Linked DNA regions of Homo sapiens. The protein of the gene in region 3 interacts with the protein of the main gene of each other region in a pairwise test. Each region holds a gene or a part of one and is shown on either strand. Other genes may lie near its edges.

What was found.
Region 1: the proteins of LRRC39 (region 3) and MYH1 interact in a two-hybrid assay, tested with the Homo sapiens proteins (one study listed by IntAct).
Region 2: the proteins of LRRC39 (region 3) and MYH2 interact in a two-hybrid assay, tested with the Homo sapiens proteins (one study listed by IntAct).
Region 4: the proteins of LRRC39 (region 3) and MYH6 interact in a two-hybrid assay, tested with the Homo sapiens proteins (one study listed by IntAct).

What each region holds. Positions count from the first base shown.
Region 1 is NC_000017.11:10,500,530-10,509,851, forward strand, and holds part of MYH1 (myosin-1), read right to left. Parts: intron 9,127-9,322; coding exon 8,956-9,126; intron 8,144-8,955; coding exon 7,834-8,143; intron 7,428-7,833; coding exon 7,357-7,427; intron 5,571-7,356; coding exon 5,483-5,570; intron 5,401-5,482; coding exon 5,283-5,400; intron 4,983-5,282; coding exon 4,859-4,982; intron 4,771-4,858; coding exon 4,634-4,770; intron 4,537-4,633; coding exon 4,281-4,536; intron 2,720-4,280; coding exon 2,477-2,719; intron 2,386-2,476; coding exon 2,209-2,385; intron 1,383-2,208; coding exon 1,237-1,382; intron 1,156-1,236; coding exon 1,065-1,155; intron 971-1,064; coding exon 581-970; intron 224-580; coding exon 97-223; intron 1-96. UniProt on the Homo sapiens protein: Required for normal hearing. It plays a role in cochlear amplification of auditory stimuli, likely through the positive regulation of prestin (SLC26A5) activity and outer hair cell (OHC) electromotility.
Region 2 is NC_000017.11:10,518,999-10,526,331, forward strand, and holds the end of MYH2 (myosin-2), read right to left. Parts: intron 6,879-7,333; coding exon 6,695-6,878; intron 6,619-6,694; coding exon 6,453-6,618; intron 6,351-6,452; coding exon 6,226-6,350; intron 6,068-6,225; coding exon 5,759-6,067; intron 5,672-5,758; coding exon 5,468-5,671; intron 4,887-5,467; coding exon 4,761-4,886; intron 4,669-4,760; coding exon 4,498-4,668; intron 4,415-4,497; coding exon 4,310-4,414; intron 4,188-4,309; coding exon 4,092-4,187; intron 2,435-4,091; coding exon 2,282-2,434; 3' UTR 2,150-2,281; downstream 1-2,149. UniProt on the Homo sapiens protein: Myosins are actin-based motor molecules with ATPase activity essential for muscle contraction.
Region 3 is NC_000001.11:100,167,288-100,176,609, forward strand, and holds part of LRRC39 (leucine-rich repeat-containing protein 39), read right to left. Parts: intron 6,084-9,322; 5' UTR 6,044-6,083; intron 1,308-6,043; 5' UTR 1,230-1,307; coding exon 1,117-1,229; intron 1-1,116. UniProt on the Homo sapiens protein: Component of the sarcomeric M-band which plays a role in myocyte response to biomechanical stress. May regulate expression of other M-band proteins via an SRF-dependent pathway. Important for normal contractile function in heart.
Region 4 is NC_000014.9:23,380,202-23,385,300, forward strand, and holds the end of MYH6 (myosin-6), read right to left. Parts: intron 4,841-5,099; coding exon 4,715-4,840; intron 4,517-4,714; coding exon 4,241-4,516; intron 3,120-4,240; coding exon 3,024-3,119; intron 2,362-3,023; coding exon 2,227-2,361; intron 1,863-2,226; coding exon 1,839-1,862; 3' UTR 1,786-1,838; downstream 1-1,785. UniProt on the Homo sapiens protein: Muscle contraction.

The DNA.
Region 1 (9,322 bases), on a different chromosome or scaffold from region 3:
GTATATGACCTCAAGTAAATAAATGCAGAGTTTTTCAGTGGATTACACATGCAGGGTGAATTTGTCATTCAAGGTCAGTACTGGTACATGGCCCACCTGATTCTGTTTGCAGGCGCGCTCTCTGTGCTGTGAGGTCATTGATCAGCCGCTGCTGCTCCTCTTCCTTGGTCTTAATTTCACTCAGTTGATCTTCTAGAGCGCGGCACATCTTTTCAAGGTTTCCCTGCATTCAAAAAGTGGTAGAAGGCATCTCAAGTAAGTAGTTGGACCAAAGAAAGTTTCAGTAATCTAAACATTCCATATGAGCTGCAGTACTCATTTATTTTGAGAAGAAACTATCTTTACAAACAAAACCAGCAAAGGTCTTAGATAGTGAATGGAAAGACTAATAAGATACATAGTCCAAGCATACAGCCACTGAATTACTTGTTAATCTAACTACTTTACTAAGTTGTACTATACGTGATATGAGAAAAAGGGTGCCTGATTTAGTTCATGAGACGTTTTTGAGATACAAATCATATTTGTGCTAAAGGGAAAAACAAAAAACCAAATAATCAATGTGAAGTGTTGATTGTACCTTGGCTTTGGAGACAGTCTCCATGTTACTAGCAAGGTCATCGATCTCCATCTTCATCTCACTCTTCTCCTTCTCCAGCTTCTGCTTCACTCGCTGCAGGTTGTCAATCTGCTCCCCAAGCTCGGCCACACTATCTGCATGCTTCTTCCTCAGGGTGGCCGCCGTGGCTTCATGCTGTAGGGTGGCCTCCTCCAGGTCCCTGCGCATTTTCTGGAACTCAGCCTCCCGCTTCTTGTTCATCTCAATCTGGGCTGAGGTGGCCCCACCGGCTTCTTCCAGCCTCTCGCTGATCTCCTCCAGCTCCCGGGAGAGATCAGAGCGCTGCTTCTCTGCTTTGGCCCGGGAGGCCCGCTCTGCCTCGATTTCCTCCTCCAGCTCCTCAATGCGGGCCTGGGAATGGTGAAAAATATTAATACGAACTCAACTTCTTGGTGTCAGTAACTTTTCGATGTTAAATTAGCCTGGCGAAAATCATTTAACGTACTTGTAACTCCTTGATTTTCTTCTGCAGCTGCATACCAAGGGCTTGTTCATCTTCAATCTTGCTTTGCAGACCGCTCATTTCAAACTCTTTCCTATTAGAAAAGCCCTTTATGTCAGTCTCAGAAATATTAAGAGTAATTTCCCCACAAAACTGTTGACCTAAAACTGCTTACTTTTTAAGCTTTTCATCAAGTTGTTGTTTGTCATTTTCTATATCCATTGTGGATTCTTGAGCCAATTTTAGGTCTCCCTCTAGTTTTCTCTTTGCTCTTTCTAGATCCATCCGGATTTTCTTTTCTTGTTCCAAAGATCCTTCAAGCTAAAAGTTAATAATCCATGAATATGGTTCTTAGAATGGTAGCACCTTTTGTCCCAGATGAAATTTTTAAACATTATATCTATGCAGCAAACTATTTTTCTATGAATTAGGCAGATTTGTCCCATTGATTCCATTCTCCTTGGTATTTACCTAGTCGAAAAAGTCATCGTTTAAAAGGTAAAATGTGCCTCTTTGTCACGTTGTTACAATAAGTTACTAGTGAGACATTATGCCTTCTGCATCTCCCCACTGGAATCCAATACTTTTCCAGCTGGGATGGACACCATGCTAATACTTCCAAACCATGAACTTTTTTAACGCCTCCCTTACTCAGGCATTTTCAGTGGGTTCTCTATTAGATATCAGATCATGTTTAAAGCCAAATTTATCTTCCACATTCCTAATTCTGAGTGTCCTTTGTTTCTGTGAGAGAAAACCTTATTGATCATTACAACTTCTTTGCTGCTGCTATGCTGCCTTCTTAGAACACCCTCCCTCTTCTTTCTTTTTGCACATAGCCCCTTGTCTTTCAAGCCCAGCGAAAGACCTGTTTTGCTTGTATAGCTTTTCTTTGTGAACACATTAACCTTCCTTTCCATCAATTCTTTTTACCCGTATTGTCTATTATTCACAGTTAACTTTCTTTATTGATTTTAAAAACTTTATTGTGTGTACATCTTAGACCTTGTAATAGGGATGATGTTCCATATTCCTCATTCATAGGAGGCACTTGATAAGTACTCACTATATCATAACGACACAAACTTATGCTTACTTAGTTTGTTACAAAATTTAAAAAATCATTTTTATATAATGTTAGGCTTACATCATCCACTTGTTGTTCAAGTTTGATTTTAGCTTTGGTCAGGGTGTTGACTTTGTCCTCCTCTGCCTGCAGGTCATCCAGGGTCTGCTGGTGGGCCTCCTGGAGAGCCTTCTTCTCCTTGGTCAGCTTAGCAATGGTTTCATCCAGACCCGCCATCTCTTCTGTGAGGTTTTTCACCTACAAAGGTGAAGAAAGCAGCTTAGTTGCTCTAAAGCACCTTTGTTGGGTGGCAGAACCTCTATACAGTACTGTAGAATATGATTGATACCTTGTTTTCTGTGGCATGTTTCTCCTTCTCAACCTTGGCCAGTGTCAGCTCAAGGTCATCAATGTCTTTCTTGAGTTCTGAACATTCATCCTCCAGTTTCCTCTTCTTGGCTGTCAGCTCAGCATTGATCTCTTCCTCATCCTCAGCTCTCTCAGTCACCTCTTTGATTTTGGCTTCTAGCTGGATTTTGGTTTTGATTAGCTGGTCACACCTTTCCTCTGCATCAGCCAAGCTGTCAGCTTCCTGAGAAGAGGCAATAGATATTTTAGATTTTATGAAAATTCCTAGACATTTTCAGATTTTATTAATATTTTGAAACCAAACAAGTAAATTGTTTTAAGCCTTCAGGTTAATTTTTATTAGCTTTCTACCATTCAGTAAATATTGGGCACTTATGAGTCCGGTAATAAAAAAAGGAACTTAAGTCATAGTTCCTGGTGAAATTATGTTACAATTATATTTGTTATAACATATATAATATGTTGGTATATAATTTCGGGTCAGCCAATTTTCTTTATTTAATATTTATTTTCAGGAGCATTCAATATATGAAAAACCAATAGACAAAAGGATTGGGTTTCTAGCAGGTTGCTGGGAGAGAAGGGTACTATCAGAAAAGTGCCTTAACAGGAAGAAATGTCATCCAGTGACAGAGTAGACAAAGGGAATGGAACATGTTCAAGGTGATGCTTAGAGAAGTAGCAAGCATATTTCTCATAAGAAGAAATAGGAGTTGAGATAAACTGTGAGGGAAGGACCATGTCTCTCATTCAAACTTACATCCCTGTCCGGGACTTCACCCAATATTTATTAGTGGATAGTTGATAGAATATTGTTAAACAGAAGTTTTATAATACTATCCTCAAAGGAGAGGAGTATTCTTGGATAGATTATCTCCTGTTTCTTGAAGGCACGATGAACCACTCCTCAATGTGGAAAACCCTGATCTATACAAAGTACAGGAAAGTCACAGTACCAACCTAGGTATTTGCAATTCATCATACTTTAGATTTTCTAAATATGTGTCCCAAACTTGTAGGCACAATGGGACTAGTCAATTCCCTTTCTGAATTCAGAGAACTGGGATGGTAACTTTTAATGTTTCTGCTGTTGGTTTTGGTGGCAGCAATTGAACTGTCTTGTTATTTGTGTTACAAAAATGGGTTAGATAGTGGCTTTTGATCAAATATTTCTCTCCAAGCCTCTGGATAGTTACTGGGACATTAGAATAAGAATATCAACCCTATCTCTCATACTTTGCATAAAAATAGACATTATCTGTGGAAGGCATTGCCATTATCCTTACAGAAAGCATTGCCATTATTCTTGCCATAATCCTACTCTTTCAGGTACTAAAAGTTTCTAAAAATAAAGTTGAGCACAAAGTTGCTCGGGGATTGTAGATACAAAACTCAGAATATTGATTTCAAGTTAATGTGTTTTCATCAAAGTCTCCTTCCTCTTCACTGACAATATTTTTCTTTTTCACAGCTCTTATTTGCATTTTTCAGTAGGGAGAATTTAGGGAGCAAAGCTCACTTTATTTCCTGTTCACATTCTGCTGTAGAAAACAACAGAGGGGAAGGAAAAATGCTTTTATTTTTCCCTTCTTGACATCAAAGAATCCTACCACAGTGATTTTTAGTAATATTGTATAGGGAATTCTATAGAACATTCTAAGGAGTTGTGGATTATTAAAGATTCATAATCTGTCCCTTATTTGGTAGAATCTAGATCTCTCCTTAGTGACCACTGAGCTGAAGTTTTAGCATCAGATTGCAGGAAATGACTTCGGGATACTCACAGCTTGAACCTGGAGTTGCAAGTCATTTTTTTCTTGCATCAGAGTAACCATTTTTTCTTCCAGCTCTTTCCTTTTTGCCTCGGTCTTAGCCAGCTCTTCTTTGGTTTTCTCAAATTCTTCCTTCATGTTGGCCATCTCCTTCTCTGTCTCTGCACTTTTGAGGAGGGGTTTGATCTTGAAATACAGCTTCATCCAGGGCCAGTGCTTCACATTCATGAAGGCACGGACATTGTACTGGATGCAGAAGATGGACTCTCTGTCATAGGAACAGAAATGTCCAAATCAGATTATAATAAGAAGCAGAATTAAAACACCTAAGATGATGAGGTTAAGTAAAGAATTCTTATTAATACCTTCTTTCCACCATTTTCTGGTACTCCACTCTTGCCAAGAACCCTCTGCACATGGCCTGGGTTCGGGTAATCAGCTGGGCCAGCTTCTCATCTCGCATCTCCTCTAGGAGCCCCAGAAGACCAGCTTTGAAAAAGACCTATGTGTGGGAAGAATTTCAGATCAGAAAATTTACATAAAGTTCAAAGGGACAGGAATAGCATCAGGTAGGATTTACAGAATATTACCTTGGTGTGACCAAATTTATACTGGGTGTGGTCAATGTCAATGGACCCCAGGAGCTTCTCTGAAGCCTTCTTGCTATCGATGAATTGTCCTTCAGGGATAGCACTTGCATTTAACACCTTGTATCTGTTTAAGCCAGACAAAAAAATGATATGGCTGTTGCCACAGACAAGAAATCTTCCTGTCTGGCTATAGAAACAACATAGCCACTGGGTAATCTGAAATAAACAAGAAATCATATCTACCCCTTTATCTATCCTCTGTTTATTCAAAGGACTTCAGAGTTTTCTTATGTCAATATGGAGTTTGTTAAGTGAGTTTATCTTCTCTTCAATTTTAAGAGGAGGTATAAAGGATTCTTTCATTGAAAAATGTTTAAAAAGTAATAAAAACCTCTTAAAATAATTTACAGCAAAAATGTCTGACCTCTGTTTGAAGTCTGCATAAAGGATTCTGCTTGGGAAGCCTTTCCTGCAGATGCGGATGCCTTCCAGCACACCGTTACACCTCAGCTGATGCAGGACAAGCTCATGCTCCATGGCACCTAAAAGAATGAATCCACATGCCATACTTCGTGGTCTATCACACACACACTGGAGCTTGTCTGGATATCAGAAATGTCTTACCAGGAGTTTTAGTTTCATTGGGGATGATGCACCGCACAAAGTGGGGGTGAGTGCTCCTCAAGTTGGTCATCAGCTTATTCAAATTCTCCTGTGGAACCATGCGAGTTTATACTTTAAAAAATGTACTGTTTTCTACATTCATATTTATAGACATAATTATTGAGATCTATGACAGTGGTTTAATTCTAATGAATAGTATCCAGATGAAAATTTTCAAAGAGTTATCTCTGGAATTTCCACATTCCTAATATGTCCCCCTGTTTTCTGTTGGTGTGCATTAGAAGCATAGTTTTCTACTTGCTGTTGAAGTGACTGTTCGCTGCTGTTTAATTTCCTAGTATATGTTTTAAATTCACTATGACACTCTAAATATATGGAAATACTCTACCCATTCTTTTTTTGCCTAGATACATGGTCTGATTTTACTACTAATCAATGCCTTCCTCTAATTCTCCCACTTTTTTCTTTGTCTTTTCTTCTTCTTCTTTTTTTTTTTTCTGAGATGGAGTCTTGCTCTGTTGCCCAGGCTGGAGTACAGTGGCGCAATCTTGGCTCACGGTAACCTCTGCCTCCCGGGTTCAAACAATTCTCCTGCCTTAGCCTCCTGAGTAGCTGGGATTACAGGCACATGCCACCACCCCCAGCTAATTTTTGTATTTTTGGTAGAGACGGGGTTTCACCATGTTGGCCAGGCTGGTCTCGAACTCCTGACCTCAAGTGATCCACCCGCCTTAGCCTCCCAAAGTGCTGGGATTACAGGCATGAGCCATGGTGCCCAGTCACACTCACTTCTTTCTTTACCTGACTTTCACTTGTATCTGTGTGTCTATCAAATGTGTATTCCTTGCCATAGATATAGAGCTGTGTCCTCCTACTTATTCCACAGAAAGTGGCCTTTATTAATGCCTATTCTGGGAATTGGTAGAAAACTGACAGCCATGTTACCAAGCGTGTAAAGTTTTCCATCTTTTGAAAATCCTGGTTTTTCCGAATATCTACAGCATCAGTTATTAGAGATGGAATCAGAAATGGGATTGCCAAAAGAAAAATAGACTTTTCTTTTTTTCCTTGAGATGGAGTCTTGCTCTGTCACCCAGGCTGGAGTACAGTGACATGATCTCAGCTCATGGCAACCTCTGCCTCCTGGGTTCAAGCGATTCTCATGCCCAGCCTCCTGAGTAGCTGGGATTACAGGTGTGCACCACCATGCCTGGCTAATTTTTATATTTTTGGTAGAGATGGGGTTTCATCATGTTGGCCAGGCTAGTCTCGAACTCCTGGCCTCAAGTGATCTGCCTGCCTTGGCTTCTCAAATTGCTGGGATTACAGGCGTGAGCAACTGTGCTTGGCCGTAATTTTTTTAAAAGTGCTATTTATTATCACATCTGGTTTCTTATTTCCTTCTTTTGACTCAGGCTCCAATTCCCACCACTGTTCTATCTTATAGCTTTCAAAATCTACTCATTTCGGTTCTATACCAATGTATCTTTAAGCACCTAAATCACTTGGAGGCTCCCAAAGCCTCAAGCAAGTCTCAGCTTTACTTAATCCTATCCCACTGGAGTCTTTTAAGGGTTAAATGACCTCATTCTCAGGCCCCAGAATCGAATTTTGCCGTCTAATACTGACTTCTGCAATTCGCTTTCATCTCTCCTGACTCCTGTGTCTTCTGAATAGTGAGGTATCTCTTCCAAACTATCCCCTCTTCCAAACTATCCTCAAGCTCCCTAAAACTCAGTCTTACCACTACCAGCTGAACTATCTCGTTGAGTCACATCAGTTCTAGAATCCTTGCAAGGTTAGTTTTTTCCCCCACACCATAGAGTACATTTAATATCCTAAATCTAATTAGACAGAGAAAATGAAGTTTGTACCCTGAAGAGAGCAGACACAGTCTGGAAAGAAGAACCCTTCTTCTTACCACCTTTCTTTCCACCGCCAGCCTCTGAGGGGAAAAAGAAAGCAATCATAGGACAGCCTTTCTCTGGTTATGGTTTTTTTTTTTTGTTTTTTTTTGTTTTTTTTGACGAAGTTTCACTCTTGGTTGCCCAGGCTGGAGTGCAGTGGCGTGATCTCGGCTCACTGCAACCTCCACCTCCTGGGTTCAAGCGATTCTCCTGCCTCAGCCTCCCGAGTAGCTGGGATTATAGGCACCTGCCACCATGCCCGGCTAATTTTTGCATTTTTAGTAGAGACGGGGTTTTGCTATGTTGACCGGGCTGGTCTTGAACTCCTGACCTCAGGCAATCTACCCACCTTGGCCTCCCAAAATGCTGGGATTACAGGCACCGTGTCTGGCCTCTAGTTATGTTTTATACATTAGGTAAAAGATTAATTATATTGATAATTACCTGCTTCCGCTCCCGTTGCCCCAACAAAGAGGAGAGCCAGAGTCTTCATTGCAGACTTCTGGTACAGCCCCACCACAGTCTCATTCAGGGGGTCCTTGTTCTTGTCAAGCCAGCCGGCAATGTTGTAGTCCACGGTGCCAGCATAGTGAATCAAAGAGAAGTGGGCCTCAGGCTTGCCTTTGGCAGGCTTGGGCTTCTGGAAGTTATTGGATTTTCCAAGATGTTGTTCATACAGCTTGTTCTTGAAGGAGGTGTCTGTCGCCTTGGGGAACATGCACTCCTCTTCCAGGATGGAGAAGATGCCCATAGGCTGGAAGAATGAAAAGAAATAAATGCCACTTGAATTCTGTCTGCTTATAGAAATAACATTTAACATTAATAATTATCCCATCTGAGTAAATTCATCCTTTAATTCTACAGAGTTAACGAAAACTCGTTCCTTTGGTCAGAAGTCATTAACTTCACAAATATTTATTGGGTGCTGATCAGGAGCCACGTGCTGTATCAGGCTCTGGGATATGACAGAGTAAGACAGATGAAGGCTGTGCTCCTGTGGAGTTTGTGTCTTTACCCCAAAGACCTGAGAGCAATATTTCTCCAAGTGTGACTTGCGAATTAGCTGCATCAGAATCACTTGCTCAAAATGAGGATTCCGATGTTTCATCCTACACTTACCAGAAAATATTTCTAGGGGTGAGACAAGGGAAACCTGCAATTGTACCAAGTATTCTTGGTGGGTCTTTCGCACACTGGATTTTAAAAGCCTCTGCTTTAACGTACAGTAGTAGAAATTCATACTTTGAATGCAGTAATAATGACTTTAGGATGACAAAAAACAGTAAGTAAAAAATATTCTAGTCAGTGCACTTTTTGTAAGGAAAGATGACTTTAAATGTAAGACTTTGTATTGCAAACTGTGGGTAAGTGTTGTGTTCTGGACTCTATAGAAAATATTTAATCTCCTTTTACCAGAATATCTACTTCAGAGTTGGCAAAATAAGGAATTCTCCTCATGTTTTTCACAAGTAGAAATATTTAGCCATTGCCTATATCAAGATTTTATGATTTTCTTTTAAATACTGTACAGCAGTATGATCTGTGGTCTGCAAAAAGCAAGCCAACCTTCTCGATGAGCTCGATGCAGGCAGCCAGGTCCATCCCAAAGTCAATGAACGTCCACTCAATGCCTTCCTTCTTGTACTCCTCCTGCTCCAGCACGAACATGTGGTGGTTGAAAAACTGTTGCAGTTTCTCATTGGTGAAGTTGATGCACAGCTGCTCCAGGCTGTTGAACTAAATGAGTTGAAAATACAAATTAGCATTCAATTTATAATGAAATCTTCTCTTTGAAAGGGGTGTTTTTTTAGTTAGCCAAATTGCCCTCTTAGGATGGTATCGTTTTGTCCTACCTATACCTACACAATGAAGTTTTTGCTGCTGTTAGCATACTTGTTAAAATTGTCTCTTCAACACCTGTCAACAAGCTCTG
Region 2 (7,333 bases), on a different chromosome or scaffold from region 3:
TTTTTTTTTTTTTGCAATTTATTGTGCTTTTTCAAAGTTGCTTGGAAATTTAATTTTGAAACTTGCTTCATGAAGAGCAGCCAAAGATAGCTTCTTTTGTTTCCTTCAATCAGTCGCCTCTTATTCATTGTCAAATCATTCCACCGGCACTTCGGACTTGCTCCGAAATTGCATTGCCTTCCAAACAGAGATGTCCTGCTTCTCTCATTTTTTTTTGGTGCCCAAGTTGCTTGTGAAATCTTGTTTCCTCTATGAAACTCAACATAAGAAAATATTGGAAACAGGGTATTTCTCTGTCTAAATATGCAGCATCGATGATTTTTCCTCTATCAGCAGTCCATGGGATATATTTAGTATTTTGCTTACAAACAATACCTGAATATTGTTTTCTATTTTAATTTTTTAAAAAAGTTTATTTTACTGTCTTTGTGGCCTCACGTCTCTGTCTGTCAGCATTGTCTGGCTAGGACTGGGACAACATTTGCTTAATATACCTGGTTTTGCACCCACATCTGTATTATTGTACTTATATCTCAATTGATTTAATGGCTATAGCTTGCCTTATGAAAGGAGATATCTGGATATACTAGTTGTAAAGGTCACATAGTTTTATTACCATAAGGGATCATCTAATTCATCTTTCTCATTTTACTAATAAAGCAACTGAGATCCAAAAAATAGAAGAGAATCTCCACAAATCACACAGCAGTTTAGACTCTGGTCATCTGACTTGCGGTCCAGCGTACTCACTTGTGACACTCTTCTACCTGGGGTAGATTAAAGCCATCAGGAAGGGTATTGCAGGGATGTGCGTCTGAGAGGGCCTTTCCTAGCCATCTATTAGCCTGCTTTGTTACCACAGGTACCTAATTTTACTTTCTTACATGTCTGTTTCTTTACTAGGCACCTGCAAAATGTGGGTAATGATTTTCAGGAAGATAAAACATTTTAATAATGCTCTCAATAGGATCTGATGGGAATCTTCAGACAACCTTTTGTCTTGCTCTGGATAAACTTTTCAATAAGTAGGAAGTAAGATATTGTTTTTGTTTATTACTGCCACGTTATAAAGCACTTAAGCAATTCCACGTGATACAGGAACAAAGTGAAAGAGGGGCTTATGCAGCGAGAAGAGCAATTCCACACCCTTTCTAAGGCCAGTGCGACAGTGTGAATCCAACTTACCTGTTAAACTACCATGTCTAATTTACATCATTTTCACACAGTGCCATTTAGACCAAGATACTCTTGCTTTCTATTTGATGGGAAGTTACCATTTAGCTCTTCCTTTATTCTGTCGAGGAAGGTTATATTTTTGGCTATGCATCTCAGCTGCATCCAGTTTAAAAATCTTGATCCTCTAGGAAAACGTCTCTGAGTGGTCCAGATTGCTATGATATCTACTTTTTGTACCAAACTCATACCCATCATTATGTGTGTTGAATATAGATTTGAATAACCTACTTTGAGATCATATTTTCTTGACACTTTTAGTCATTTATTTTGGCTCTTTATATGATTATCTGGGAGACCATAAAGATTGGAAACATAAGCTAATAGCTCATGGATACTACATTATAACGTAAAAATAATATTCTCTATGTCTCCAGATTTGATAGACACCCTGTAGTTTTCATAGGGAGAAGAGTCATATTTAATTTAATTTTGAAACTTGCTTCGTGAAGAACAAGGTCGTGTCAAACCCATTACCCAGTGCACCTACTGTGGGCATATGGTACATTGGAATTGATAATGTAAATATCCATGGGCTAATTAAGAATATTTTGTATTTATATTCTTGATAACAGTTATTCAACAAAGAGAATTAATGATACAATTCAGTTTGAATCCCCTATGTGAGAATATAGCTAGTACTATCCTGAAAAAGGTTCATGTTAGGGGAAGCAGGAGCTTTCTAAGATTTTACTGTACTCAGATATCAGGAAAGGTTAGAAAGAAATAAAATAGACTTCCAAATTTCTGTTCATTAGAACAGTCTTTCTGGATAAGTGACATCTTTACAGCCTTAAAGTGTTGCCGTAGACCCCCAAAAAAGTCACCAATTGAATGTGATTGTTTGACAACTCTGGTGACTATTCAAACTTTGACATGGCTTCAGGAAAGAGAAAAGACAAGACCAGTCTAAGGATATTGTTTGCAAACTACCCTATGCTTTATTTCCTTTGCAACAGGGTAGAATACACAATAATTACAGAGGGAAATGACCAAAGATGTCACATTTTGTGCCTGTCTTCAGTCATTCCATGGCATCAGGACATGATCACTCTTCACTTATGACTTTTGTGTGAACCTCCCGGCTCTTCACCCGCAGTTTGTTCACCTGGGACTCAGCAATGTCAGCCCGTTCCTCGGCCTCCTCCAGCTCATGCTGGAGCTTGCGGAATTTAGCTAGATTGGTGTTGGATTGTTCCTCCTGAGAATAAAAATGGAATTGTAAGGAACTCATACTTGCATCTTTCTAGACTCTTTAGACCTAATAGAAGAAAGGACTTGGCATCTATGGAGAAGCAACATCTAGGGATTATCATTGAAATTAATTTTAAGATTTGTTTATTGATGTCATATATATATATATATATATACACACACACATACATACATACGTATCTCACATTCCTATTTTGGCAACCAAAACACATAAAATATATGTACCACAAGTAGAATAAGAAGAAAAATATAAGCTTAGAGAGGAAGGCAAGAATATTAAAGTCATAGTTGTTAATGCTTGCTATAAGATGATGATTTTCCCTTGAGTTAGATTTTTTTTATCATATTAAGAATGAACTTATTAAGTTTTTAAAAATTGAAATAAATATTGGATTTTGTCATGTATCATTTTGGCACATTTCAAAATGGTTACTTTTTTCCTCCTGCATTGGATGTAATGATTCTATTGACAGATAACCTAATATTAGGTAATCTTTACATTGTAAGAATTAACCTTATTTAATCACTGGAAGACAATTCCTTTAATAAAGTAAGACTTACTACTTAGTAATTTATCTTTGCTGTAACTGTCTTTATGAGTAAAATTGCCTTTAGTTTTTCTCCCTCTGTCCTCTCTTGGGCAGGTTTTGGTATGAGGGTTATGTGAGCTTCTTAAAATGAACTGGACAGCTTTCTATCTTTTCCCATGCTCTTGAACAGCTACATAGCTGGGGGATTATCTGTTCCTTGAAATTTTGAAAGACCTATCTGGACTTGGGTCCATTTCCAGAAGTAATTCAGCCAACTTAGTAATTTATATCCTCCTAGAAAAATCATCAATTTTTTTCAGGGTTTCAACTTTATTGATAGATGTGTTTTATATTAAAAAATAATCCTCTATGTATATAGCTTATTCCCTTTCTCATTTCTAATGTTGTTTATATTTTCTCTCTTATTTTCCTTGATGAAACTAGTTATAATACATTTATTTTATTAATTCCCCAGAAGTTACAAATATTACTGAAGTTATCAAATAGAAAATAGTATACTCTAATTCACCAATTTCTACTTTTATTTTTAACAGTACTTCTTACTTCTACTGTTTTATTATTATTTATAATTTATTTATTGGACTGTCTGTTTGTTTATTTTTACTTTTGGTTCATAATGAAAGCATTTAAAGCAATGAATTAGCCTCCTAGCACAGCTTTGACTACATTCTGTAGGTTTGTAAAAGTAGCATCTTCCTTGTGATTTTACTTATAATTAATAATTATTTAGTAATTATGTTTTTATTTTTACTTTAAACCAAGAGTTATTTAAGAAAGTTAGTTTTTTTAATATTTAAGTACTCAAGAATTTTTGCTTATATTTTGTCATCACTTTACAACTCCGTCATACTGTGGCCGGAGAATATGGCCTGTATTATTTCTGCTTTTAATTTTTTTCAGGATTCTTGGTGGATTGAAAGTTTACTTTTAAAATGAAGCTACTGATATTACAAATGATACACAAGAATTATTGTACAAAAACAAATGTTAAATATGCATGCAGTAGTCTTTAAAGCAAACAGCTTGTTCACTACAAGAAGTAGTAATTATTTATTAGCTTAATTTGAGGACTTCAATCTTAAAAATACTTACAGCCTCCTCAGCTTGTCTCTTATAAGATTTCACTTTTGCCTGAAGTTTATCTACCAAATCTTGAAGCCTGAGAATATTCTTTCTATCTTCTTCCGTCTGAAAGATTATAAAAAGTCCAGGACCTTAATTACTAAAGCACATGACTATTGCATCATTGCATATGAGTATTTCACATAAACTTCGACCAGTGCTTAGCCGCTAAAAACTACTGGCTGTACCTGGTAAGTGAGTTCCTTCACTCGCCTCTCATGTTTGCGCAGACCTTTGACAGCCTCAGCATTACGCTTTTGCTCACTCTCAACCTCTCCTTCCAGCTCCCGTACCTGCAAATAAGTAGGCTCTTAAGAACTTTGATCCAATAAGGCACTGAAAGCAGATGGAAATAGACAGATATTGGGAGACCCACCCTGGCCTCCAGTTTCTGGATCTGCTTCTTCCCACCCTTCAGGGCCAGCTGCTCAGCCTCATCCAGACGGAGCTGCAGATCCTTCACGGTCTGCTCCATGTTCTTCTTCATCCGCTCCAGGTGGGCGCTGGTGTCCTGCTCCTTCTTCAGCTCCTCAGCCATCATGGCGGCCTAAATAGCAAATAAATCAAGAAAACCAAGAAAGTTATAGATGTCAGGAAATCTTACTGCTAAATCAGTGGACAAGTGTGCCTGCCACTCACATCAGTGATGGCCTTCTTGGCCTTTTCTTCTGCATTGCGGGCTTCCTGGAGAATGTCCTCCATCTCTCCTTGCATTTGGGAAATATCTGTCTCCAGCTTCTTCTTGGTGTTGATCAGGCTGGTGTTCTGTTTAAAAAGAATTTGTACATTTAAAAAATTGTGTTACCAAAGTATTTATTGGTAACCACTTCTTGAAAAAAATTCAGATAAAAATTTGCAAGTCAAAAAATGCCTTTTAATATTAAAGAATTAAAGGATTGTGTTATGTAATATGATTAAATAAAATATAAATGTTATAGAATATTCAGCATCTTCAAGTGTATAGGTCACAAGCAGACCAAGTAGCTCTATAATTTTATAATTATCATTTACCAATAGACCATTCACAGGGATAAAAGTATAATGGACTTTCTCATAACATTCCATTTCTCCAGAATGAAATGTGAATATTGATAATGAGGGCCAATAAAGATATTAACACAATAGAATACGGGGGCAGCCTTAGAATATTATATGAAGCAAATCAACAATAGTTTTTCAAAGCAAAACAGTGAAAGATTTCTCAGTAATGCAGAATTACTATTCTGTATTATTTGAAAAGAAAATTTGATAGACATATTAGGTCTAGCTGTCTTATGAAAACTCAGGCTTATCTATTCTGGGACATATAAAATTTACTAAGGAGAGTTCTTTGTGCTGAATCCCACCTGGGTGTGCAGTAGCTGAACACGCTCACTGGCATCCAGGAGCTCCTGTTCTGCGATTTTTCTGCTCCTCTCTGTCTGTTCCAGAGTGGCCCGCAGCTCCTCGATCTCAGCCTGCAGCAGGTTGGCTCTGCGCTCCACCATGGCCAGCTGTTCCTTCAGGTCCTCCTGGCTCCGGAGAGCATCATCCAGGTGGATCTGGGTATCCTGTGAAACAAACCATCATTGAGACATCATGTTCTCAGGGTTGCAGGCACCCCAATAGTCCTGGGACCATCTCTTGGACATATTTACCTTGAGGATGCCTTGGGTGTTCCTGTAGTTCCTCAGGGCCTCAGCAGCCATGCGGTTGGCATGGTTCAGCTGGATTTCCATTTCATTGAGGTCTCCCTCCATCTTCTTCTTGAGCCTAATGGCATCATTCCTACTCCTGATCTCAGCATCCAGCGTGCTCTGCATGGACTCCACGATTCTAATGTGGTTTCTCTTCAGCTGGTCAATTTCCTCATCTTTTTCAGCAATTTTCCTATCAACCTCAGACTTGACTTGGTTCAACTCAAGCTGGATGCGCAGGATCTTTCCCTCTTCATGTTCAAGAGATGCCTTAATGACAGCAAGAGGTGACATTAGCAAGGAACCAAAAGCTTTATGAAGTTTTTCTGCACAGCAATAATTTTGTGCTATGTGTCTTTTTATTCACTCTATGCAGATGTACCTAATTATTTTCCAGATTTTTTTATAATGCACAATTTTACATGTACCTCTGCTTCTTCTAAAGCAGCCTGAAGTTCACACTTTTCTTGTTCCACTTGTTTCTTTATTTTCTCCAGTTCATGGATACGTTTCCCTCCTTCTGCAATCTGTTCCGTGAGGTCAGAAATCTCCTCTGTTGTTTGAGTAAAAGACAGGTAGGGATTTGGTTAAACATGTGACATAAGGGAGAGATTCTTCCAAGTTATGAATATTATTGAATATGATAGGGACTTACGCTGTAAGTTTTTGTTCTCTCGCTTCAGGGTTTCTAGCTGATCCAAAGATTCCTCATAGGCATTCTTTATCTTGAACAGCTCAGTGCCAAGGGAACGGGCCTCCTTCTGGGAGGCCTCAAGCTCAGCATGCGTTTCCTCACATTTCTGTTTCCATTCTGCCAGGATCTGAAAAACCAAGACCTGTTACCTGCTGCAAAGACAAAAGAGTAGAGTAAAGAGCAGAAGATGCTGGAGGAATTACCTTATCGAAGTTCCTTTGCTTTTTGTCAAGGGCGGCACAGGCGGCATTTGTCCTCTCCACATCAAGCATGAGGTCCTCGACCTCATTCTGCAGCCGCTGCTTCGTCTTTTCGAGGGAAGCACATTTGGCGTTCACAGCTTCTACATGTTCCTCAGCTGCCTGCAGCCGCTGGGCCAGCTTCTTCCTTGAATATTATACATGTTTTCAGAGAGAAGTGAACCATAATATGAATTATGAGCTATTGCCACACACGCTGAAGAGTGTTAGAAACTTCACATTAATGCTGCCCAGCCACCTTTCATTCTTTCAACAAATATTGATGAGCCCCTTTTATGAACCAGACACTGGCTACGCAGCAGTGACCAAGACAAAAAAGATCTCTGCTTCATGAAGACCACAAACAAGTGAGAGAGGTAAACAATAAGCAAATCAGAACATCCGTAATAATACCTTACAGATACAAGTGCAATGAAGCAAAATAAAATAAATGGTGGGCAACTACTCTAGATATTCAGTGAAGGCCTCCATGAAGAGATATTTGAGTCAAGAGCTAAAAGTCAGAGAGCCAAAGGGAAGTCTGTGGAGAGGGTATTTCAGACAGAGAGAAAAGCAGGTACAAGCCCCTGATGCAGCGATGAG
Region 3 (9,322 bases):
AGGATCAGACTGACACAGGGATTAACAGTGGAAGGTGATTAAAAAAAAAAGCTGACTTTTAAAAGATGTTGAGGCTTTGCATTGACTATCTTCAGAACAGCCTCACTTCCCTATCGCCTAAACCATCTTTAGTTGAATTTTTTGTTATTTGCTAACTGACATCGGCAAATAACATTTGCTAATTTAATGTTTAGAAAGAGGCAATGGCCTGGCATGGTGGCTCATGCCTGTAATCCCAGCACTTTAGGAGGCCAAGGTGGGTGGATCACCTGAGGTCAGGAGTTCAAGACCAGCCTGGCCAACATGGTGAAACCCTGTCTCTACTAAGAATACAAAAATTAGCTGAGTGTGGTGGCATGCGCCTGTAATCCTAGCTACTTGGAAGGCTGAGGCAGGGAGAATCACTTGAATCTGGGAGGCGGAGGTTGCAGTGAGCTGAGATCATGCCATTGCACTCCAGCCTGGGCGACAGAGTGAGTCTCCATTTCAAAAATAATAATAATAATAATAATAATAATAATAATAATAATAATAATAATGATAGAAAGAGACAATGAATGAGAATTGTATGGAACTATATGCATCTATGAGGAAAGGGACTATTTTTGCAGGATTAGTAGAATACTTTTTGGTGACATCCAATCAGGAAAGTAGGTAAGATAAAATGGAGGCAGAGGAAATGAGAGTCAAATAAATATAGCCCAGATCAAGGAATCAAGTGATCCAGCAGCTCTGGCTAGAACACATGGCTATTCAAATAAATGAGAATCTACTGTACCTTCTACTGTCAAATGTTGTTTTAGGTCCTAGGGCATATAATGCTGAACATACAATCCTGAAAATTAGACTATATGATACTAATCAAACTTTGATGAATGTTAAACAGAGTCCTATGAGGGTATAAGATAGCTACCATTTTCACATTTGTATTTTTTGTGACTCCTATCGCATAGACAAATTTAATTGAGTCAGCTGTTTTCTTTAAGTATATTTTGAGTTTTCAGTAAATAAAATTCTATATCAAATTCAATAACAAGGCATTTAGAATGCTCTTTTTTATGGTGATGATAATATGAATTTTCACTAATTCAAAATAATAAATATGTTTTAGCATACTTGTGTTGAAATTCCTTCTCTCGCTTCAGGTCTTCATTGAGTTTCTTTATTCTTTTTTCCCAAACTTCCTTTACAGCATTGACAGCCCCAGTACAAACCACATTTTCTGTCATGATTTCTCCACATTGTCATAGTCACCAACTTCATTAGGTTTTGAATAGCTGAATCATAGATACCATTTCAGAAAGGACCTAAATGTACCAGAGAAAAAAAGCAATGTTTCAGACTGTTCATTGAGTACCATAATGATCATAATAGCTAATATTTATAGAACACATTCCATGCTCCAAAAACTATTTTATATACTTTACATGCCATATCATATTTAAAAACTCTCATAAAATACTATAATATAGGTACTTTTATTGACTAATGTATAGATGAGAAAATTAAGCTTTAAAGAAGGTGAACAATTTTCTTGGGGGTCTCATATCTAATATATGATTCCTTTGTTACTGTGTATTTCATAATAATGAAAAACTGCAACTAGTCTTCATGTCCAATTATAGGAAAATGGTTAAATAATGGAGATTTTTAAAAAGACTGGAATCTTGAGATATCAATCTAATCAGGACACCATATGCACAAGTAGAAATTCAGTTAAGTGATAATATATTGGGATTGTTTCCTTTTGTGTAAAATAAATTGCAAATGGATGACGCAGTATTAAGGATTTTGACCTGAATCTCAGAAATGAAAGGAAAATACTCAATAATAGGAAAATGGTTATGTAAATTATGGTAGGTACATTTTATGGAATATCCTATGGCCTTAAAATAATCGTACTGATTTTTGATCAAATTAGTAATAATAAAATAATTTGATTCACAATTATTTGAATTATTTCCTTTCAAATTCAGGAATGCAAAGACATTCACAATCACTTCTATTCAACATTATAGGAAAACCATAAAGGAAGTAAAGTAAATAGAAAGTAATGTAGTTGGAAAAGAAAGCAATAAAATTTGCAACAACATAGGGAAACAGACACTTTCCTTCATCAATGGTGGTATTATTATATTCTGTATGGAGAGAAACTTGGTAATACTTACTAAACTCACTAATGCTCATCCACACTAGCAATTTATCCCTCAAATATTTTTGAAGTTATTCGCAGTGTTTTTCATAACAGCAAAATATTGTAAACAACCTAATATTTCATCGGTAAACTATAGTCTACCCATATCATGGGAAATTATATAGCTCAAAAAAAAGAAAAGAAAGGTATCTTATATATTCATATGCCATGATCTCCAAAATATATAACTATCCCACAGTTTATCCATTCTAATGAATGTGAATATTTGGGTCCCAGAGCTTTGCTATTATAAGCAATAATGTTTCTAAAATTAATGTTTTTATCTTCTTGGTGTTCCAGTGGAATTATTTCTACTGGGTACATATCTAGAATTAGAATTGCTGGATCATAGTGTATGTAAATGTTCCAATTTATAAGTCAGAGCCAAATTGTTTTCCAAATTGATTGTGCCCATTTATACTCTTACTACCACTGTATAAGGGTCCCCGTTGATATACATCCATTACTGCATAAAGCCATATCCCAGGGTGGTCATAATTTGTACTTCCCTGATGATTAAGTGTTCCAAGTTAATATACAAAGGTTGTCCAGTTAAAGAAAAGACAAAATCCTGAGTGTTGTTTATGAGAGGCACACCTAAAAAATAAAGGTAGAGAAAAGTGGACAGTACAAGAACAGGAAAAGATCCACTCCTAAGTATATAGAAACAGAAATGAAAACATATGTTCTCACAAAATCCTGCACATGAATGTTGATAGAAACAGTATTCATAATAGCTAAAAAGTGGCAACAACACAAATGGCCATCTACTGATGAATGGATAAACAAGATGTGGTATATCCATACAATGGAATGTTATTTGGCCATAAAAATGAATGAAGTATAGATACATGCCACAGTATAAATAAACCTTGAATAAAATTATGCTAAGTGAAAGAAGTCAGACACAAAAGACCACATATATGATCTCATTTATATGAAATGTCCAGAATAGGCAAATCTGTAGATTCAAAAAGTAGCTTTGTGGTACCCAGGGGATTTGTAGAGGGGGAAATAGGGAGTGACTGCTAACTGTACAGTTTTTTGAGTGATGAAAATGTTCTAGAATTAGTGATAATGATTGTACAACTCTTGAATAAAACTACTGAGCTGTACACTAAAAGAGAGAATTTATATATGAATTATATTTCAATTAATTTTTTCTTTCTTTTTTATATCTTTATTTCTTTCGTTTCTTCCTTCCTCCTTCCCTCCCTCCATCCCTTTCTTCTTTCTTTCTTTGCTCTTTTGAGACAGGGTCTCACTCTATCACCCAGGCTACAATATAGTGGCGGGATATGACTCTCTGCAGCCTTGACCTCTGGGCTCAAGTGATCCTCCTGCCTCAGCCTCTCAGGTAGCTGGAAGTATAGGCATGTGCCACCATGTCTGGCTAATCAATTAAATTTTTTGAGAACTGAGGAAGATATACTATGCAAACACTAAGCAAAAGAAGGCTAGTATCAATATATTAATAGCAGACAAAATGGACTTTAGGCACAAATACTTTACAGATATAAAAGATCAATCATATCATAATAAGAGATTTAATCCACAAGAAATATAAAACAACTTTAAACTACATGCCTCTAATAACATGGCTTCCAAATATACAAAGGAAAATTGACAGAACTAAAGGGAAAAATCAAGGAATCCAGAACTGAAGTGGGATATTTTAACAATTCTTTTAGCAATTGGTTGCACAAGCAGTTTAAAACTTAGGAAGAATACTGAAAATTTGAACCACACAATGAATAAACTTACTTAAATGATAAATAAAGAACTATATCCTACAATGACAGAATACATAATGCTTTAAAAAACACATGGAAGAGTCACAGAAAAAAAATCTCATATTGGGGTCATAGAGCAAGTCTCAGTCAATTTCAAGGGATTAAAGTAGCATGAAGTTTTTATTCTAATCAAAATATAAACTTGCTAGAAATCAATAATGAAAAGATACCTGGAAAAAAAGCCTATATTATTTCAGCTAAAGAAACACACTTTTTTTTTTCTTTCTTCTTTTTTTTTTTTTTTTTGAGACATGGTCTCGTTCTGTCCCATAGGCTGGAGTGCAGAGGCGTGATCTCGGCTCACTGCAGCCTCAAACTCCAGGACTTAAGTAATTCTCCTGCTTCAGCCTTCCAAGTAGCTGGGACTACAGATGTGTACAACCATGCCTGGCTTGTTTTTTTTTTTTTTTGTAAAGACAGGGGTCTTGCTATGTTGCCTGGGCTGGTCTCAAACTCCTGGGCTCAAATGATGCTCCCACCTCAGCCTCCCAAAGTGCTGAGATTACAGGCTTGAGCTACTGCACCCATCCATGAAACACACTTCTAAATAACCTGTAGTCAAAGAAGCTATCATCATGAAATTAGAAGGCATTTTGAACTGAATTAACAAAAATACCACAAATCAAAGTGTATGGAATATAGGTAATGTAGTAGAGGGAAATTTCTAGTCTTAAGTATACATTTTAGAAGAAATGAGGCTAAAAAATTTACATCCATCTCAAGAAGCTAGATAAAACAAACACAAAGAAAACAGAAGAAAGGGAATATTATAGATAAACACACACATGTATAAAATTTTAAAATGACACAATAGAATACAATAATAATAATCTAAAATCTCTCCACAAACAAAATGCTGGTCCCAGAGATGACTTCAGTGGAAAATTCTACCAAGCATTTGAGGGGTAAAAAATAACACTAATCATAGAATGAACTCTTCCTGAGAATAGAAAAGAAATACTCCCCAATTCAGATTATGAGATTAGCATATGCTTGATACCAAACCCCAAGAATGGTAATTCTAGAAAGAAAAATACAGACTAATCTCACTAACAAATATATTAACAGAGAAAAGTCCTAAACCATATACTGGCAAACCATATCTGGCAATATAGGAAAAAGAAAATACTGGCCAGGCGCACTGGCTCATGCATGTAATTCCAGCACTTTGGGAGGCCGAGGCGGGCAGATCACTTGAGGTCAGGTGTTCAAGACCAGCCTGGACAACATGGTGAAACCCCGTCTCTACTAAAAAAATACAAAAAAGGCCAGGCGTGGTGGCTCATGCCTGTAATCCTAGCACTTTGGGAGGCCGAGGTGGGCAGATTGCATGAACTCAGGAGTTCGAGACCAGCCTAGGCAACACAGTGAAACCCCGTCTCTACTAAAATACCAAAAAATTGTGGCCAGGCGCGGTGGCTCATACCTGTAGTCCCAGCACTTTGGGAGGCCGAGGCGGGGGGATCACGAAGTCAGGAGATCAAGACCATCCTGGCTAACATGGTGAAACCCTGTCTCTACTAAAAATACAAAAAATTAGCCGGGCGTGGTGGCAGGCGCCTGTAGTCCCAGCTACTTGGGAGGCTGAGGCAGGAGAATGGCGTGAACCTGGGAAGTAGAGCTTGCAGTGAGCTGAGATCATGCCACTGCACTCCATCCTGGGTGACAGAGCGAGACTCTGTCTCAAAAAAAAAAAAAAATTAGGAGGTTGCAGTGAGCCAAGATCATGCCACTGCACGCCAGCCTGGGTGACACAGCGAGAATCTGTCTCCAAAAAAAATAAAAATAAAATAAATAAAAATAAAAAATACAAAAATTAGCCAGGTGTGGTGGCATGCACCTGTAATCCCAGCTACTTGGGAGGCTGAAGCAGGAGAATCGCTTGAACCCAAGAGGCGGAGGTTGCAGTGAGCTGAGATGGTGGCACTGCACTCCAGCCTGGGCGACAGAGCCAGACTCTGTCTCAAAAAAAAAACAAAACAAAACAAAACAAAAAAAAGAAAATACATTACAGCCATATTGGGTTTATTCCAGAGATTAAGATTTGTTTGCTTACCTTTGTTTGAGAAATCAATTAATGTAATATTCTGAATAGACTAGAAGAGAAAGAAAATATGATCATTCCAATAGATGTAGAAAATTATTAAAATTTAATATCGTGATTAAAAACAAGTCTTAACATACTCTAAGTAGAAGATAATTTATTTAACCTAACCAAGTATGTCTAATAAAAACCTGCAGCAATCATACTTGATAGTGTAACATTGAAAGCCTTTCATTTAAAATTAGTAAAAGATGTCTGCTCTCACTACTTCCATTCAATACTGTATCATGGCTCTACCCATTGCATAAAAGCAAGAAAAAGAAATAAAAGGCTTAAAGTTTGAAAAGGAATAAAAAACAAAAGGACATTTTTCATGAGTACAATTATGAACTAGAAAATCCAGGAGAATTTACAACTAAATATATAGAATTTAGCAAGACTTCTGACAAGTCAATATTTTGAAAAATCAATTATGTGTCTATATTCCAGCGGAAAATATATATTAAGTTCTGAAAAATATACTATTTTCAATAGCATAAAAATCAAATTCTTAACAATGAACAGAATATGTAAAACTTCTATACAGAAAACTAAAAATTAGAGTGAAATTAAAGAAGGCCTAAATAAATGAAGAGATATACATCATATTCATTGATAGAAAGACTCAATCTGTAAAAATGTCAATTATCCCCACATTGAACTATAATCAATCTCAATACAAAATTCATTTGGAGAAGGAGAGGAGCAACCTGACAATCAGTTTCTAATTTTTAATGACAATTCTAAGGATACAAAATAGCCCAGACACTCTTGCCAAAGAAAACTAGAGTGGGAGGATTTATTTTGCATTCATCAAGATCTCTTTTAAAGCTATGGTACTAGATAATGTTATTGGTGCAATAGAAAAACATACCAGTGTACCTGAATAAGGAACCCCAGAAACAGACTCATATACACATAGGCACTGCAGAACATTGTGGAAATTTTTTTTTTTTTTTAGACAGGGTCTGGTTCTGTTGCCCAGGCTGGAGAGCAGTGGCATGATCTTGGCTCACTGCAACCTCCACCTCCTGGGTTCAAGCCATCCTCCCACCTCAGCCTCCCAAGTAGCTGGGACTACAGGTGCACACCACCACACCTGGCTAATTTATGTATTTTTCTGTAGAGATGGGGTTTTACCATGTTGCCCAGGCTGATCTTGAACTCCTGGGCTCAAGTGATCTGCCTGCCTTGGCCTCCCAAAGTGCTGGGACTACAGGTGTGAGCCACCACACCTGGCCATGGGAATAATTTTTTAAGAGAAATTATATTGGGACAGTTGAATATCTATGTATTACCAAAATTAATTCCATGTGAATTGTAGATCTAAAAGTGAAAGTAGAAAAAATAAAGCATTTAGGTGACAATATAGGACTTATCTTGATGTCCTTAAAGTAGAGAACACTTTTTAAAACAGAATACAAAGCATATCCATAAAGGAAAAGATATACTATATCACAATATAGTTTGAATATATGTTCCCACCAAATCTCATGTTGAACTGTAATCCCCAACGTTGGAGGTGTTGGCTAGGTAGGAGGTGATTGGATCATGGAGGAGGATCCCTCATGGCGTGGTGCTGTCCTTGAAACAGTGAGTTCTTGGGAGATCTGGTTCTTTAAGTTTGTGGCACCTCCCCCTGCTCCCTCTTTTGCTCCTGTTCTGGCCTTGCGGGACGCAGGCTTCCCCCTTTGCCTTCCACCATGATTGAAAGCTCCCTGAGAAGCAGATGCCAGCACCATGCTTCCTGTAAAGCCTGCAGAACCGTGAGCCAGTTAAACCTCTTTTCTTTGTAATTTACCCAGTTTCAGGTATTTCTTTGTTTTGTGGTTTTTTGTTTGTTTGTTTTTTGTTTTTTTGAGACAGGCTTACTCTGCCACCAAGGCTGGAGTGTAGTGGCACAATCATGGCTTATAGTAGCCTTGATCTCCTGGGCCCCCTCTGCCTCAGCCTTCAGAATAGCTGGGACTACAGCAAGAACCAGTGTGCCAGTTTTTTTTTTTTTTTTTTGGTAGTGACAGGATGTCTCCACATTCTCCAGGCTGGTCTTGAACTCCTGGGCTCAAGTGATCCTCCTGCATTGGCCTCCAGAAGTGCTAGGATCACAAACATGAGCTGCTGTGCCTGGCCAGTTATTTCTTTATAGCAATGCAAGAACAGCCTAACACAGATTGATAAAGTGGACTACATTACAATTAAGAACCTATTGAAAGACATCACTTAGAAAATAAAAGGAATACCATGTACATTAGTGGGGGAAGATATTGGCAATATATATAACCACCAATGGATTACATCTAGAATATATAACGAACTCCTTAAAATCAGCTGAAAAAGGCAACAGAAAATACAATTGAACAGGAAATTTTCAAAAAATAAAATCCAAATGGTAGAACTTTCCCTGTGGAGAAAAAAAAATCCAAATGACCAAAAACAAATGAAGTTGTGCTCCACCTTAATAAAAACATAATAAGATACCAATGAACATCTGTCAGAATGGCTAAAATTCAAAAGGCTGATTATACCAAGTGTTGGTGAGAATTTGAGTTACAGAAATCCTCATGGACTCCTGGTATATTGGTGAAATTGTAAATTAGTATTAACTATTTTGAAATACTTATGTACTAATATTGAAGATAAGCACAGCTTATGATCCAGCAATTCCATTCAAAGGTATGTACCTAGAGGAAGGGTGTGTCTCCACCAGGAAACATGAACAAGACTGTTCCCAGCAATGTTTTACATGATAGTAAAAAAATTAAAAATAAAGTAAAACAATGTTTTAAAAGCAATAGCTGGACATGGTGGCTCACGCCTGTAATCCCAGCAGTTTGGGAGGCTGGTGGATCGCTTGAGGTCAGGAGTTCAAGACCAGCCTGACCAACATGGTGAAACCCCGTCTCTACTAAAAAAACATAAAATTAGCCAGGCGTGGTGGCACATGCCTGTAATCCCAGCTACTTGGGAGGCTGAGGCAGGAGAATCACTTGAACCCGGGAGGCAGAGGTTGCAGTGAGCTGAGATTGCACCATTGCACTACAGACCAGACAACAAGAATGAAACTCTGTCTCAAAAACAAACAAAAAAAAGGAATGGCAGTATTCATCCATTGAATTATAAAAATAGCTAGAATTAAGGGGGAAAAAACTGTGTGACATTGGAGATATGGTGAAAAGATGAAATTTCTTCTCCCAATAAGCAAAAAGAAAGGCAGTCAGAAATTGTGTTGAGGAAGACACTGTACAAGAAAGC
Region 4 (5,099 bases), on a different chromosome or scaffold from region 3:
AAATGCGAATGCTGGGAGAGCCGTTGATTATCAGCTGGTCCAATGCCCTCATTTCACATAAGAGAAAACAGGCCCAGCCAGGGGAGGTGAACTCATTTGTGACAGAGCTAGGGCCAGAACGCAGCTCTTCTGACACCTAAGCGAGTGTTCTGGATACTGTACTGAGCCTCCTTGTAGCTCAGAAAAGAATGGCCAACTCTTCCCTCCACTGCGGGTCCACCCTCCCAGCTTGCCAGCTCCTCAGCACACATTTCCTGAGCATCTCCCATGCACACTGTGCTGGGTGCCAGGGCCTCAGAGGTGACGGGGGGCCTGCCCTTTAGCACTCACAGGCTGGGAAAGAGACAAGCTGGTCAAGAGCTCCCCACAGTGAATGCTATGGGAAGGCTCAGGGGAGTTTGGAGCAGACACTGCCACAGCCCGGGAGTCAGCCCTGCTGGGCCGAGACAGACAGATGTGCAGCCAGACGTTCCTGCCCAGCCCGAGGAGCCCAGCATGGCCTGGCTCAGCAGCTCCATCCCAGCTGACGTGCTATCTCCTGTCGCTGATGTGTGTGTGTTCCCGCCCTGAGATACAATCCTTCTTCTGGAGCGCTCCTTCCAGCTGCAGGCCCCAGCTCCCAAGTCCTGCCCGAACCCTGGATCTTGAACTCTGGTCAGAGCGCTCTGCTTCCTTGGTGGCAGCCACTCCTCTCTCTTGGTCTTTTTCCTGCCTCCTGCTTCCTGTTCTCCTATCCTTGTGTCCTGGCTCACCATCAGAACTGGCAGCCTCTCCTGGGCTAGAACCAACAGGATTTTGTGTTTCTCTGGTCACTGCTCACATTTCTCAGGGCTTTATGCACAGTCCATTCTCATGGTCTCAGAGGAGGGATAGAAGAGGCTCCACTTGGGGAGTCAGGGAGATGGGGTGCCAGGTGAACGGTTAAGGAGGCGGTCAGCAGAGCCTGGCTGCAAAGCCCAGTGGGGAGTGGGGATTTGCTTTGTGCAGAACGGGGTCAGGACCGGGCCTGTCCCACAAGCAGCTGTGTGATCCAGGCCAGACTGTCCCCAGTAGGAGCTTAGAGAGAGCAGAAATGTGACCACAGTGTTTCCCTGTACAGGCACCTGTGCCATCTGTGTCTGTGTGAGAACCAACATGAAATGAGCAATGCCCAGGCTTGGTCCTCATGGCATATTGGTTTGGGCTCAGTGTTGATTGGCCCCAGAGTCTCAAGATGCCCTCACGGTGAGGTGCTGAATCATAGGAGGCAGGGGGAGACCCCTGGGGAAGACAGGGAGGGGGCTCCCTGGGAGTTACTTCCTAGGGGCTGACTAGAATGGAATCTCTCCCATCTCCTTTCCCATACCTTAATTCTCAGCCAGCTCTGAGCCTTTTCTGGCATTGGTGGAAAATTCATTTCAGAAAGAATGGGTGTCCTAGGACACCTTTAATCATTGCAGCCTCAGGGGTGGGGTAGGTGGAGAGTGGCTTCAACTTCGGCACCAAAATTCTATCTCGTAGCATCTTGGACTGGCTCACCATTTTGATGCCATTGTTTTCTTCACTTTTGAAATTTCTCCCTCTCCACCCTTGTGTGGTTGACTGAGCAGAACTGGGACTCACAGCTGTCCACGTCAGGCAGAACACCTCACTCCTCTGCACCTCGGTCTCCTTCCTTGTGGATATGGGATGCCTTGGCTCTGGCAGCTCTGATACAGGGGCTGGGGGCCTCCCTCCTCTCAGGCCCCCTACTGCCCTGATCCAGGATGGACAGCTGGCAGGAAGGACAGATGGGCTCAGGCAGAGTTTGGCACTCATATTTATTACAGGTTGGCAAGAGTGAGGTTCCCGAGGCAGTGTCACTCCTCATCGTGCATTTTTTGCTGCAAAAAGAATAAGAGGTGTGAGGGGGCAGCTGGCAAGAGGGAGAAGTGTGTGGGGACAAATCCCTGGGGCTTTCAGAGGCCTAAGGGAGATGCCCTTGGAGGGAGAGGCAGGGCCCCAGGGATCCTGTGGTCCCACGTTAGAGGCACTTGTGGTTTAGGGGGATGGAACTGGGGATCTCTGCAGAAGTTCCAGTCAGTGGGGGGCTGTTTTGAGCAGGAGAGTGGATTCTCAGGTTATGTAAGCTATGGGACCCTCAGAACTGCCTACATATAGGGCAAGCAGTGCCCACTCTGAAGGGCACCCATATCAGGGGGCATGCTAATGTGGAAGTGACTAGTGAAGCCCAGGGGAGGGACCCACCTTGGCACCAATGTCACGGCTCTTGGCTCGAAGCTTGTTGACCTGGGACTCAGCGATGTCCGCCCGCTCCTCTGCCTCATCCAGCTCATGCTGCACCTTGCGGAACTTGGACAGGTTGGTGTTGGCTTGCTCCTCCTGTGGTGGGACAGTGGGGATGGGTGAATGAGCTGGAGATGGGCTATGGGATTCTCAGCCTCTCAACCTGAGGTTCCAGCTCCCTGTCCCTGAGGCACCCATACCTCATGCATATTCCTGCAACAGCCTTCCCAAGGGTATCCTGCAACTGCCTTGCACTCTTCTCAAACATGTCCAGCACTCAGAGTCCTTCACGGCCATCCACTGCCCCAGACAAATCCCATGCTGCCCGATCTGGGCCCCTTCAGAATCCTGTTTTGCTGCACCTGTCCCGGACCCCAGCTTCCTGTGCAGGCATGCTAATCAGCAACTCACATCCACCCAGATGTCTTCCCCACTGCCCTGTGGCTAGCTGGGTCCCCTTCTAGGCCCAATTCCACCGCCACCTTCCTGCCTTCAGCTTCGGCTGCCCCACGTCCTGCACTAGCATCTACACTGCCTTCTGTTGGGTTATGGTATCTGAATTGTAAGCAGCTTGTAGGTGGTGCCTTTGTTAATTCAGAACACCTGACAGCTCTGAGCATACCAGATGTGTCAAACAAATGTTTGAGAGTTAAAGTTTATAGCAAACTCTTTGTCCAGGCCCCTCTGTAGGAGATATTCATTGGTTCTCACAAATAGTAGGTGTGTTGATGAGAAAGGGAAGAAAGCTCTGAACTCACCGCCTCCTCGGCCTGGCGCTTGTAGGCCTTGACCTTCAGTTGCAGCTTGTCCACCAGGTCCTGTAGCCGCAGCAGGTTCTTTTTGTCTTCCTCTGTCTGGGGGTGGGAGGGTGGGAGAAGCTGGTTTGGAGGGGGAGCAAATGCAATCACCTTTCCCTCCTCCATCATTTTACTCTTCTCCCCTTGCCTTTGCTGCCCCTCCCTGCAATGATCCAGGTCAAAGAGGTGGTGGGGAAGATTCTCTGACTCTATCGTAGGTCAAAGGGGCAATGCAAGGTTGTCAGTCAGGGATCCACAGAGCAATGAAGGCTGAAGTCATAAAGCTAGAAGTAGGGGGAGGGGCTCAGAACCTAATGGAATTCCCTAATGTGGTAATATAAAAGCACCAGGTCTGTTCCAGCTCCAGTATGGTGGATAAAGCTCCAACCTGGACTTACATAGGTTCTCTTGGCCAGTAGTTCTTGACCAGAAAAAGAATGCAGAAAGAAGGGGGTATTATCATAATCCAGATTATTCTACATTCTAATATATTGTACTGGGCCAGAATTCAGGCATCGGGATCACTGGCTCCAACGTCACTCGATCATTCCTATCTCTTTATCATTGTATGTGCCAGGATGCCATTTCTACTTCTGTCCACAAATCACTCTGTGGTTCTGTATCTGTAACCTCTTTCTTGTGCCTCTGGTATCCATCTATCAAATGGACTGACACCCTCGTCTCCTTGGCCTTTTCTTCCCAGGTACACTGAAAATAACGGGCCAAGGGCACAGCTCTCAGCTATGCAAGTGGAGGTTTTAGAGCATTCTAGGGTCCTCTTTCTCTGTGGCCTTCTCTTTGTGTGCCAGAAGTTCTATGGAAGATTTCCGGGTCTTTTCCCCTCCCCTGACTCTTATCCCCACAGTCGAAGGTGGAAGGATTCTTTGAACTGTTCTGAAGTCTTCATGGTAGCACTTAGAGTTATTAAAAAAAAAAAAAAAGAAAGAAAGAAACCTGGGGAAAGACTAGTTAGAAGAGTTTTCAGGAAGTAGAAGTAGATTCTTCATTTGCTGGAAAAACTCATAGACTCAAGTCAAACTGACTGCAGAGCGTGAGAAGAACGTTAAATCTACCAACAGCATCTCAAGGAGGAGGTGAGAGGAGCCCTGTGAGGGCGGGGCAGTGGGGCCAGAGAAGAAACTTCCACATCTACTCCTGGTGTCTGGCGTCCGCCGCACCTGGTAGGTGAGCTCCTTGATGCGCCGCTCGCTCTTCCTCATGCCCTTCACCGACTCTGCGTTGCGCTTCTGCTCGGCCTCCAGCTCACCCTCCAGCTCCCGCACCCGCGCTTCCAGCTTCTGCAGCTGCTTCTTGCCTCCCTTGAGGGCGATCTGCTCGGCCTCGTCCAGCCGGTGCTGCAGGTCCTTAATGGTCTGCTCCATGTTCTTCTTCATGCGCTCCAGGTGGGCGCTGGTGTCCTGCTCCTTCTTCAGCTCCTCTGCCATCATGGCGGCCTGTGTGCAGGAGAGAGGTGGCAAGGAACATGGGCCAGGGGCCGGGGCCTTTTGCCCCCCAAGGATCTCCTTTCTCCCATCAGGCCCTCAAATCCACAGAACTGCAGAGTTGGCTTGGTGTTACAGCACAGTGGCCTGGCCTGGACCCAAGGCCTTGTTTCTGTCTTTAGGGGAGGCGGAAGGTGGGCGGTCACTTACATCCGTGATGGCCTTCTTGGCCTTCTCCTCGGCGTTTCTGCACTCCTGCACTGCCTCCTCCACTTCCGACTGGAGCTGGGTCAGATCCGACTCCATCTTCTTCTTCTGGTTGATGAGGCTGGTGTTCTAGACATGGAGAGAGAAAAATGATCAAATATATACTACACTTTGTTACCTGATTTCATACCCTTTCTCCAGAAAGAATTAAAGGTGGTCATTTTTTTTTTAAAACAACAAGCCCACTTTTAGACTATTGATCGTTTTGTACCTGCTTTCCCTTTTCCTATGAAAGTGCATACATTCTAGACATTGTATCTAAGATTACTAAACTCTGAAAAAAGACTTCAAATAGCAAAAGGTCTGCAGTATTACCCTGGAGCTCTTT